Linked DNA regions of Homo sapiens: region 1 is linked to region 2. The links come from fine-mapping of genetic effects on plasma protein levels. A gene starts in region 2. The other region holds a variant in brackets. All regions are shown on one strand. Distances are between the middles of the regions.

Evidence for each region. PIP is the posterior inclusion probability: the model's chance that the variant is causal. The UK Biobank Pharma Proteomics Project read protein levels with antibody pairs (Olink). The fine-mapping took linkage between variants from a reference panel, not from the people measured, so its PIPs are less certain.
Region 1: its variant is fine-mapped to the plasma level of the CHCHD10 protein (UK Biobank, PIP above 0.99).

What each region holds. Positions count from the first base shown.
Region 1 is chr22:23,948,838-23,954,200 of GRCh38, reverse strand. No RefSeq gene overlaps it. Among named protein-coding and RNA genes, the nearest start is that of GSTT2B, 9.7 kb to the left of the region's middle. RefSeq lists enhancers at 1,160-1,851, 1,852-2,543. The variant G/C (reference allele first, on the strand shown) is at 2,857.
Region 2 is chr22:23,765,502-23,770,819 of GRCh38, reverse strand. It overlaps CHCHD10 (coiled-coil-helix-coiled-coil-helix domain containing 10), which reads left to right and starts at 2,848. Exons shown (of 4, transcript NM_213720.3): 1 at 2,848-2,986; 2 at 3,227-3,446; 3 at 4,545-4,692; 4 at 4,794-4,986. The coding sequence starts at 2,946. The coding sequence ends at 4,813. It overlaps C22orf15 (chromosome 22 open reading frame 15), which reads right to left. Exons shown (of 6, transcript NM_182520.3): 6 at 4,957-5,099. The coding sequence ends at 5,088. LOC107985577 (a long non-coding RNA gene) reads right to left here and starts at 2,594. Exons shown (of 3, transcript XR_007068022.1): 1 at 2,027-2,594. RefSeq lists enhancers at 3,711-4,510, 4,511-5,310.

The DNA of each region.
Region 1 (5,363 bases), 180 kb before region 2:
CTTGGCTCTGGTCCTTGGTTTCCCTCCTATGAAACAAGTTGGGTGAATTAGGCAGTCTCTGGCATTCCAGGATTTGGTCTCAGGTCTAAACAGAATTTTGTAAAGTGAAAGCAGCATCCCTTGGGCATCCCGGGAGGTGTCCCTGCCCTCCATGGCTCACCGTCTGCCACATGGCCCAGCAGCAGCTACTCTGCAGGGCCATGTGCTGCCATGACAGGTACTGATCCCCATGGGCGCGGGCCTGCAGGTCCTGGAGGTACCAGTGGTCAGGTGCTTTGTACATGCAGCTCATATAGAGCAAGCTAGCCACACTGGGGGGACATGGCAGGGGCAGAAGACATGCCCTGAACACTCTTCAACCGTTTTCTGGGGCATTTTCACTATCCCCATGATGCAGAGGAGGGATGTGAGGCTCAGAGAGGTTAGGTAACTACCCAGGGTCACACAGCCCTACACGGGGCCAGACTGTCATCTCAACTAAGGGCAGCAAGGAAGAAACAAAATGTCATGAACTTCAGCAGGGGCTCAGGGAAGGCTTCCAGGAGGAAGGGGCACCCAGTGTGAGTCTGAAGAACGAGAGCATGTTGGATATCTCCCCAACATATCCAAAGTGTGGACAGGGCCAGGAGCAAGGCCAGCAGGGACAGAGCCTTCCAGGTGACATGGCAGCATTGCTTCCCACCCTGTCCCAACTCCCGTTCACCTATGGTGAAGGGTTGTGCAGTCTGACCCTCAGAGCTCATCATGCCTTTATGGGTGTTGGACCATCCAGTGATCCCAGGCTCTGAATGTGAATCCAGCTCCACCAAGGAGGCACTATGTGGCCTCGGTAAAGGACGCCACCATGCGGCCACCAACCTGGAGGCTGGTTTTGGCTTTCATTTTTCCCACCCACCTCCAACCCTTCAGCAAACCCTGCAGTTAGATTTCAATAAAAGTCAGAACTGACCACAATCCCCCGCAACCCTGCACCACCACCACCTTGGTCTGGGGCTCCAGCGCTGCATGCCAGATGACTGCAGTGGCTTTCTCACCCCTGCCAGGGGGATCCTTTACGACGTAAGTCAGATCACAGTTCTCCTCTGCTCAAAACTCTCCAACAACTCAATCCACCTGCGGTAAGAGCCAAAGCCTTCCCAGTGTCCCATGCTCCCCTCTGTCGTGACCTCCTGCTCTTCCTGCTCACTGCACCCACCCTGGCCCGTTGCTCTCCAGTCTGAACCCCATGCATTGTCCCACCTGGAGCCTTCGCCCTCACTCTTCCCTCCAGTGAGAACACCCTTCTCCTCATGCCTTGCACATTCCTACAGCTCCCTGCTCAGATGCCACCTCCTCCAGGGAGTCTTCCCTCAGCATCCTACTCATAATGACACACACCCCCACTCTTACCCTGTTTATTTTTTCCATGGCATCCATCAACATCCGATATGTTCCATGTTTACATGGGTTACTGTCAGCTCCCCCTTCTATTAATGGAATGTGAGATCCATGAGGAGAAGGACGCAGACACGTTCACTGCTCAAGCCCCAGGGCTTAAATGGGGTCTGGCCCTGGTGGATGTTTAGCAAATAGCCACTGAAGCTCGCTGAGTGGTCCCTCGACTCTCCAGGGAAACAGCACTTGCCCCACAGGATTTGTGGGCAAAATGGTAGCACTAAGATGCCTGGTACAGCCGCTCCTCGAAACTTAGCACTCTCCTTTTTTCGGAGGGGAAGGCTGGCGGTGAGGAGGCCCGGAAGCAGACTGGGCCCTGTGGCCTTGTGCAAGTCCCTCCCCTCCTCCAGCCTCAGTTTCCTCACTTGTACAATGCAGGAGGGGACTTCTATAACCCTTGTCAACACTGGGCACCTCTGCCTGCCTCCACCCATTCTTCACCCTGGGGCTGGTGCAGGGCCCACAGTCCATGATCCAAGCCATCAACAGTGAACAGACAGCCGACTGGCCCCACAAGGCCCGGCAGCAGCCCACGGACCGGTTACCTCTCAGCCAAGGTGAAGTCCCCATCCTTCAAGGCCCGGCACCTTCCTCAGGGGGTTCACCTGGGCAAAGGCATCGCTGTGCTGCTGGCCTGCAGGAAAGATCAGAGAGGTGAGTGGGGATAACCCAGAGTTCTCTGAGGTCTCTGCCCACCCCCACCCCAAAATCCCAGCAGCAGCTTTCTGAGGCCCCTATCTGGGAGGCATCAGGGAAGAGGAAGCCTCTCTGCTAGTCACTGGGTCACAGACCTTGACCCCATCAGAGGGCCATCTTTCCTGTGTCCAGCTCCTTGAAGCATGGCTCAAGGACAATTCCCTGGAGCTGTAATTCACACCCCACCCCCAGCCAGTTCCATCCATAGGTCAGACCCCTCCAGCCTCCTCCCTGGGCTCTAGGCTTGCCCCCTCTGATTCAGCTTCCTATCCCAGCTGGGGACTTAGGCCCTACTGGCCAGGCTGGGTGACCTGTCAATACCCCAGAGTCCCAGCCAAACATGTTCCCAACCCTCAGACCAACCTCATTCTTGCTGGGAATCCCTGCCCCATTCAGCTACTTAGCCTCCGGTGGCTCAGCTCTTCTTGCTTTCTTATGCCAAACTCTCAAGGCTCCCTCCCCAGTGGGGGTTCCCAGGTCTGACTCACTTTAGCACTCTAGGCCAGTGCTAGAGGCCGCATTAGGTGCCTGGTGTTTGGATCAGAGGACCTCAGTCAAGCCAGGCTCCAGTCTGATCATAGGCCTACATGTGGGCCTCTTTGCCCTTCTACTGAATGGACATACACACCCCTGCCCATTCTCCCTCCACAGACTGCTTCTGTGTCCAGCCCCTGTTCTGTAGCAGGTGACTCAAGCTGGTTGTACCAAGGGCAGCAGTTGGGAAGA[G/C]TCAGCTGAGCAGGGTCCTCCCTCTGGCCTGCCCAGGGGGCTCTGGCTCTGCTCTCTGCCCTACTGCTTAGTTATAGCCCTGCCTCCTCCACTGAATTGTGCTCCAGCTGCATCTCTGTATGCCAGCCAGACCAGCAAACGCTGGAGCTCAGGGTGAGGGTGCTGGCCTCCCCCACTGCCCTGCCACAGGGCCCTCCAGCCTCTAGCCTCTAGGAGTAGCCCCTTCAGCTGGGTGAGAAGCCCCATGGGATAGAGCAAGTCAGATGCAGGAAAAGGAAAAGGCAGAAGAATGCCAAGAAATACATAAAAGTGGAAGAGACCCAGGGCCAGACATGGTGGTGCATGTCTGTGATCTCAACACTTTAGAAGGAGGAGGCAGGAGGATCACTTGAGCTCAGGAGTTCAAGGTCAGCCTGGTCTACATGGCAAAATCATGCGTCTACACACACCAAAGAAAAAAGTAGCTGGGCACGGGGACGTGCCTGTAGTCCCAACTATTCTACTTAGGAGGAGTAAGTTGGGAGGATCACTTGATCCTGAGAGGTCAAGGCTGCAGTGAGCCGGGATCATGCCACTGCCCTCTAGCCTGGGCTGCAGATTGAGACACTGTAATAAATAAATAAATAAATAAATAAATAAATAAATAAATAAATAAACAAACAAATAATACAAAAGTGGAAGAGACACAGGCAGGGGTAGACAGGGACTATTTTACTTAGGAAACAACGAGGCAGTTTCATTGTTTTTTCCAAGCACATGGGGTGAAGATATTCTTGCCCCACTCCATTTCCCTACCCTCGTTCTGTGCCTGCTGTGCCCTCTCTAAACCTGTATTTTGAAGAATGTTTTGTATTCACAAGCAAAGATCAAGCCTCTATTAAAATAGACAACCAGTGGGGCATGGCGGCTCATGCTTGTAATCCCAACACTTTGGGAGGCCAAGGCAAGAGGATCACTTGAGCCCAGGAGTTCTAGGCCAGCCTCGGAAACACAGCAAGACCTCCTCTCAATAATAATAATAATAATAAATTGGCCAGGCATGTCGGTGGGCACCTGTAGTCCCAGCTACTTGAGGGGCTGAGGCGGGAGGATCGCTTAAGCCTGGAAGGTCGAGGCTGCAGTGAGCCATGATTGTGCCACTGCACTCCAGCCTGAGTGACAGAGTTAGATGCTGTCTCCAAAAAGTAAAAATAATAACATAGATAATTATGTAATAGTTTCCACACCGGAGAGTCTGATTCTTCGTGTTAGTCTGCATTCTTGGCCCAACTGCAAAGCAGCGGGGACAGGCAGGGATCCGCGGCCAATATCCCCTGGGCCTGCCTGCCCAGCCCAGCTTTGGTCAGCTCCACTGTGCGAAGCTCGAAGGGGATGCCATTCTTGGCGAAGATGTAGACTGAACGGCAGGGCTGGGACAGCAGACCCATGGCGGGGGCAATGGGGTGGGGCGTGGGAGGGCAGACCTAAACCCAGGGGACGGGCCCTGGGGACAAACCCGGGGACAGGCCCGGGAACAGGAACTGCGGGCAGGAATGGCTGGTTGGGGGCGGCGGACAGGAACGGCTGGGGGTAGGTGAGGGTTGGGCAGGAACTGCTGGGTCACCGAGCCTGCAGCGGTGCACCTCACCAGGAGCCCCGAGTCCGGCCACGCCCTCTTCACTCATCCCTTGGCTCCTAGAACTTCGGGTCAATCAGTGGCGTGTCTGCTCTCTCACCACCCCTTTCTGGGAATCTAGGCTGCAGGTATATTTCCCACTAAAAGGGAAGAGGAGAGGCTGGGCGCGGTGGCTCACGCCTGTAATCCCAGCACTTTGGGATACCGAGGGGGGCGGATCACGAGGTCAGGAGATCGAGACCATACTGGCTAAAACGGTGAAACCCGTCTCTACTAAAAATACAAAAAATTAGCCGGGCGGGGTGGCGGGCGCCTGTAGTCCCAGCTACTCGGGAGGCTGGGGCAGGAGAATGGCGTGAACCCGGGAGGCGGAGCTTGCAGTGAGCCGAGCTCACGCCACTGCACTCCAGCCTGGGCGGCAGAGCCATACTCCGTCTCAAAAAATAAAAAAAAAGGAAGAGGAGAAAGGAGGTGCAGCAGCCTCCTTGCCCAGTGCCTGGGCCCAGTGCCCAGGACGGAGGCCAGAGAGGAAGGGTGGCTGACTGCCTGCGGGGCTGCCAGCCCCACACCTCATGAAGGAATGAGCTGTCCCTCCCCAGTTGCTGGGGTCATATTTGTTACACTCTAGCTAACGCCTCCCCGAGATGGCTGAGGCCCTGTGAGGCCTATCCAGAGGTTTCCAACAGTGCCTGGCATTGCACAGTAAATTAATCACCATGACACGAGTTTTGCAAAAGAGAAAAGATTTATTCACAGGGCACCAAGCAAGGATGTGGGATAGTAGCTCTCAAATCCACCTTCCCGAAAATAAGGCTTAGGGATAAGCCTTGCTTCCAAGCAGTAGAGCACAGGCCCCAGCCACGCTCCAGGGTAGGGGACCATACAAGGATGT
Region 2 (5,318 bases):
CTCAGGTGATCCACCCGCCTCGGCCTCCCAAAGTGCTGGGATTACAGGCGTGAGCCACCGCGCCTGAAAGGCAATCTTTTCTTTAAAGTCACTCACTTTTATTTACTTTTATTATTTTGAGACAGGGTCTTGCTCAATGGTGTGATCTTGGCTCACTGCAACCTCCGCCTTCCAGGCTCAAACGATCCTCCTGCCTCAGCCTCCCAAGTAGCTGGGACTACCGGTGTGCATCACTATGCCCTGCTAATTTTTGTATTTTTTGTAGAGACAGGGTTTCACCATGTTGGCCAGGCTGGTCTCGAACTCCTGGACTCAAGCAATCTGCCTGCCTGGGACTCACAAAGTTCTGGGATATAGACATGAGCCACTATTCCCCGCTAAAGTGACTCATTTTTAAAAAGTAGGCATTTCAGGCCAGGCGTGGTGGCTCATGCCTGTAATCCCAGCACTTTGGGAGGCTGAGGCAGGCGGATCACAAGAGACCATCCTGGCCAACATGGTGAAACCCTGTCTCTACTAAAAATACAAAAAAAAATTAGCTGGGCATGGTGGCACGTGCCTGTAGTCCCAGCTACTTGGGAAGCTGAAGCAGGAGAATCACTTGAACCCGGGAGGTGGAGGTTGCAGTAAGCTGAGATCACACCACCGCACTCCAGCCTGGCAACAGAGTGAGACTCTGTTTAAAAAAACAAAAACAAAAACAAAAAAACAACAAAAAACAAACAATTAGCGGGGCATGGTGGCATGTGCCTGTGGTCCCAGATACTCGGGAGGCTGAGGCAAGAGAATCGCTTGAACCCAGGAGGCAGAAGTTGCAGTGAGTGGAGATCATACCACTGCACTCCAGCCTGAGCGACAGAGCAAGACTCCGTTTCAAAAAAAAAAAAAAAAAAAAGTTGGCATTTCAATGCCTGCTTCAGTGTCATCCTTTCAGCCTCATTTTCATTTGTGTAACCCACTTAAGTGGTCTTGGGTGCCTCCGAGGTGCAAGGCCATGCTTTGTGGAACCTGCAGTCCATCAGCCATGGGAGCTGAAGTAACAACTCTCTGCAGTTTAGGCCCGGGGACCACCATGAGAAGTGTTCAGTTTGTTTGGTGTGGCAAACAGGAACCAGGTGGCATGGACTGCATGAACAAGGGAGTAGCGGCTGGACCAGGCCTGGTGAGTCTGCCAGGAAAGAATGGCCCACCCTTGGTGTGCTCACCTCACTGGGAGGCCACCCTCAAGGTGGGTGGTCACCCCCCTTCAGAGAGGAGAAACTGAAGACAGGGCGGGGAAGGGCCCTGTTCACAGGCTGGCTGAAAGGACTGCAGTGTGAGAGAACACAGGGCTGCACCTGACTTCCATGGAGAGCATGCATGGCTGGGGACAGCTGTGCACACACAGAATTGAGCATGCCAGGCAGGGCCAAACGCCCCAGCCACCACTCCCCTTGCCCCTTGACCTGCTCCTTCCTTATGGAGGGGCCTCCTCTCTTACTTGGTGACCCACACCCCCACTTCTGGGTGCTTTTGCTCTTGGTTGCACCCTGCCGACAATCCCGGTGTCAGGAGTCCTCTGCAGGCACAGCAGTGATGAGGGACAGTCCCTACCTTCCCCCACCTAGGAGTAATAATATGACCACTGCAAAGTCACCCAGAAAAGACCATAAAAACCTCAAGCTCAGCCGGGCGCGATGGCTCATGCTTGTAATCCCAGCACTTTGGGAGGCTGAGGTAGGAGGATCATGAGCTCAGGAGTTGGAGACCAGTTTGGCCAACATGGTGAAACCCCGTCTCTACTAAAAATACAAAAATTAGCCAGGTGTGGTGGCACGAGCCTGTAGTCCCAGCTACTCAGGAGGCTGAGGCAGGAGAATTGCTTGAATCCGGGAGGTGGAGGTTGCAGTGAGCCGAGATCGCCACTGCACTCCAACCTGGGCGACAGAGCAAGGCTCCGTGTCAAAAAAAAAAAAGTAAAAAGTAAAATTAAAACCTCAAGTTCTCGAAGAGCAGGAAAGCATTCTAAATCCGCGCTCCAGCTCACCTGGCCTGGAACGAAGCTGCTAAAATTGCGAGGCCGCAGGCTTCAAACTTGCGCTAGATTTGACCGAGCCGGGCAAATGCTCCTAGGCCTTTGGGATAGACACGCTGCTCGGATGTCGCGTAAAGGCCGTTAGTGTCGGGGGTTGCACTCGCGGGGCCAGGGACTAGGTGGGGGCGGTCGGGCCGGCCCGGGGAATCCGGTGGGGTTCAGGGCCGCGCGGGGGGCCTCATATCCCCCGCGGGCACTGCGTAAGGCTGCCAGCATTGGCAGCGCATTTTGGCCAACAGTCGAAGACGGGTTGGGACGCCCCCTCGTGGGAGTTCTGGGGATGGGTTGCTCCAGGCCTTCCCCAGGGCCGCGCTTCACTTCCCTAGGCCACCGGAGACTCCCAGGCCACGCGGTGGTCAGCAGACCCTGTCTGGAGGGAGGGGACAGACAGCCGAGTCCGGGAGGGGGCAGAGAGCGGAGTCCAGCCTGGAGCCTCGCGTCCCCTTCCCAGCTGGCCCCATCCCGTCGCCTCCCCGTCTCCTCTCCCCTCCAGGGCTCGCAACAACCCCCAACTCCGCTCCCTGCCCTCTGCGGTGGTCCTAACAGAAGGCACTGTCGCCCTCCTTAAGCCCTCGGCGCTTTGCGACACTGGCCCCTGTCCCCAGAACCCGCACAGCCTGCCAGGCGCAGGGAGGGAGCAGGGTCCCATTTCCAGCCGAGACCCGGAGCTGCTGGAAGGGAGATGTCCGGAGGACGGGAGAAGGGGGATAGGGTTGGGGGCAGTGCCGCCTCCCGCTGGGGGCGTGTTCCTGAGGCCCCGCCCGGGGCCCCGCCTTTTTTGCGCCGGCTGTGACAAGCGCTGCGGCATTTGTCCCCGCGACAGCACCGCTGCCGCCGTCTCTAAGGTCGCCCGGGTCCCACCGCCGCCACCATGCCTCGGGGAAGCCGCAGCGCGGCCTCCCGGCCAGCCAGGTGTGAGGGGGACAAGGGCCCTGTGGGGAGGGGGTTAGGGAAGTGTGGGCACTCCCCTAAGGGCGTCCGCAGAGTGACCTTGGCTGCTGCTGCGCCATCTTGGCGGGGGGAGGGGTGGGGGTGCAGCACCCACGTGTGGAGACGTGGGTCGTCCATCTCTCCGGGGGTCGTTTCCAGGAGCTGCAGCCCTCCAGCCTGGGGTCTGGCCAGGATTAACCCTGCTTCCTCCCACCCCCGCAGCCGCCCAGCCGCGCCCTCTGCCCACCCGCCCGCGCACCCACCGCCCTCGGCAGCCGCCCCAGCCCCCGCCCCTTCGGGCCAGCCGGGGCTCATGGCTCAGATGGCGACCACGGCCGCAGGGGTAGCCGTGGGCTCGGCTGTGGGACACGTCATGGGCAGCGCCCTGACCGGAGCCTTCAGCGGGGGGAGCTCGGAGCCCTCCCAGCCTGCTGTCCAGCAGGTGAGCAGCGAGTCCAAGAGAAACTGAGGCAGGATTATCTCGAGGCCACACAGGGAGCTGCCCAAGTGTCCAGTGAGGAGTGTCCGCGTGTATTCACCATTGCTTCAGCCCAGGACTCTGCCCGGGAAGGGTCCTAGTCCACTGGTCTTGAGTTCACTGTCACTTAGAGGCAGGCTTCCCGGCCTCTCCCTTGAGGCCAGGGTCCCTAAGCTCCCAGGGAGAGACACCAACCAGCCCTTTAAAGATGGGAAACCCAGGCCCTGAGGGCTCAGAGACTCGCCCAAGGTCACCTCACCCTAGCAGAGGGGAGGGATGTTGGATTTCCTGAGCCCCTGTTCTCCCCACACCCAGGTCTGGGCACTGTGGCCGCTGGGCGCAAGGGCGAAGGGGAGCCACTTCCCTGATGACCTTTCCCCTGCTAGGAACCCCACCGCCGTAAGCCAAATGTGGCTTTGTGGCTAGGTCAGGGGTCATGAGGATTAGTGTAGCTGAGCCAGGAAGGTGCTAGAACTTGTGGGGGTGGGGCTCATACTCTGAGAGTACAGGCAGAGTACTGGGCTTTCCTAGAGCCTTCTCCTCCCTCTCCTGCACCCGCCCAAAGTGCCCATTAGAAGGCAGCAGAGGCCAGGCGCAGTGGCTCATGCCTGTAATCCCAGCACTTTGGGAGGCCAAGGCGGGTGGATCATGAGTTCAGGAGTTCGATACCAGCCTGGCCAACATAGTGAAACCCCCTCTCTACTAAAAATACAAAAAATTTGTTGGGCATGGTGGCGGGCGCCTGTAGCCCCAGCTACTTGGGAGGCCAAGGCAGGACAACCACTTGAACCCGGGAGGCGGAGGTTGCAGTGAGCCGAGACTGCGCCGCTGCACTCCACTCTAGGTGACAGAGTGAGACTCTGTCTCAAAAAAAAAAAAAAAAAAAGGCAGCAGAAACATGCTGTCTGTAGCCGCCTCTGCTGCTGGATCACTCAGCCTGCCTAGGACCCTTGGGACACCCAGGCTGGGGATGTGGGGAGGGGCAGGTGGCCCCAGGTTTGAAACGCACCTCCAGGTGCCAACTCCAAGCTGATCCTGCAGCCTCTTGCACTGTACCCCCAGGCCCCCACCCCCGCTGCCCCCCAGCCCCTGCAGATGGGGCCCTGCGCCTACGAGATCAGGCAGTTCCTGGACTGTTCCACCACTCAGAGTGACCTGTCCCTGTGTGAGGGCTTCAGCGAGGCCCTGAAGCAGTGCAAGTACTACCATGGTGAGTGAGTGGACCCCGACTCAGGCGGGGAGGGGGAGAGGCCAACCCTCCTCTTGCACCTGCAGGCTGACCACCAGCCTGTGCTGCCCCTCCCTTCCCAGGTCTGAGCTCCCTGCCCTGAAGAGGTCGGTGCAGACTCGGGGGCCAGTCCTGCACCCACCTCTACCCCTCGCCGACAGCCAGACCACAACACCAGATTGTACCCAGATAGCTGGGATTGGAAGTGAGGAGGTTTCTCACCCCACAGATAACCCAAGACACAAATGTGCAATTAAAAGTTTATTTTAGACCACAGCCTGTTGTGTGCCTCTCTCGATGGCCTGTCTTCAGGGAGCTCCCTGGCTGATGAGGTGGGGTCAGGATGGATGTCTCACTACAGTGTGCAATCCATCCCCTTAATCAGGGCCCTGGGTGGGGAGGAGGAGCCCTGTTGCAATCTGCACTGTGGGTAGCACAGGACAGATTCCTTGGGCAGTCCAGAGTGAGGTGGAGAGGCATTAGTCGGTGATCCCAAGGGCATCTGACTCTGAGGGTGGAATCCCAGGATGAACCCATGGTCTCCCCCTTATCAGGGATACCTGCCACCTCTACCCTTCTTGTCTCTACCTCTGCATCCCATTCTCTGC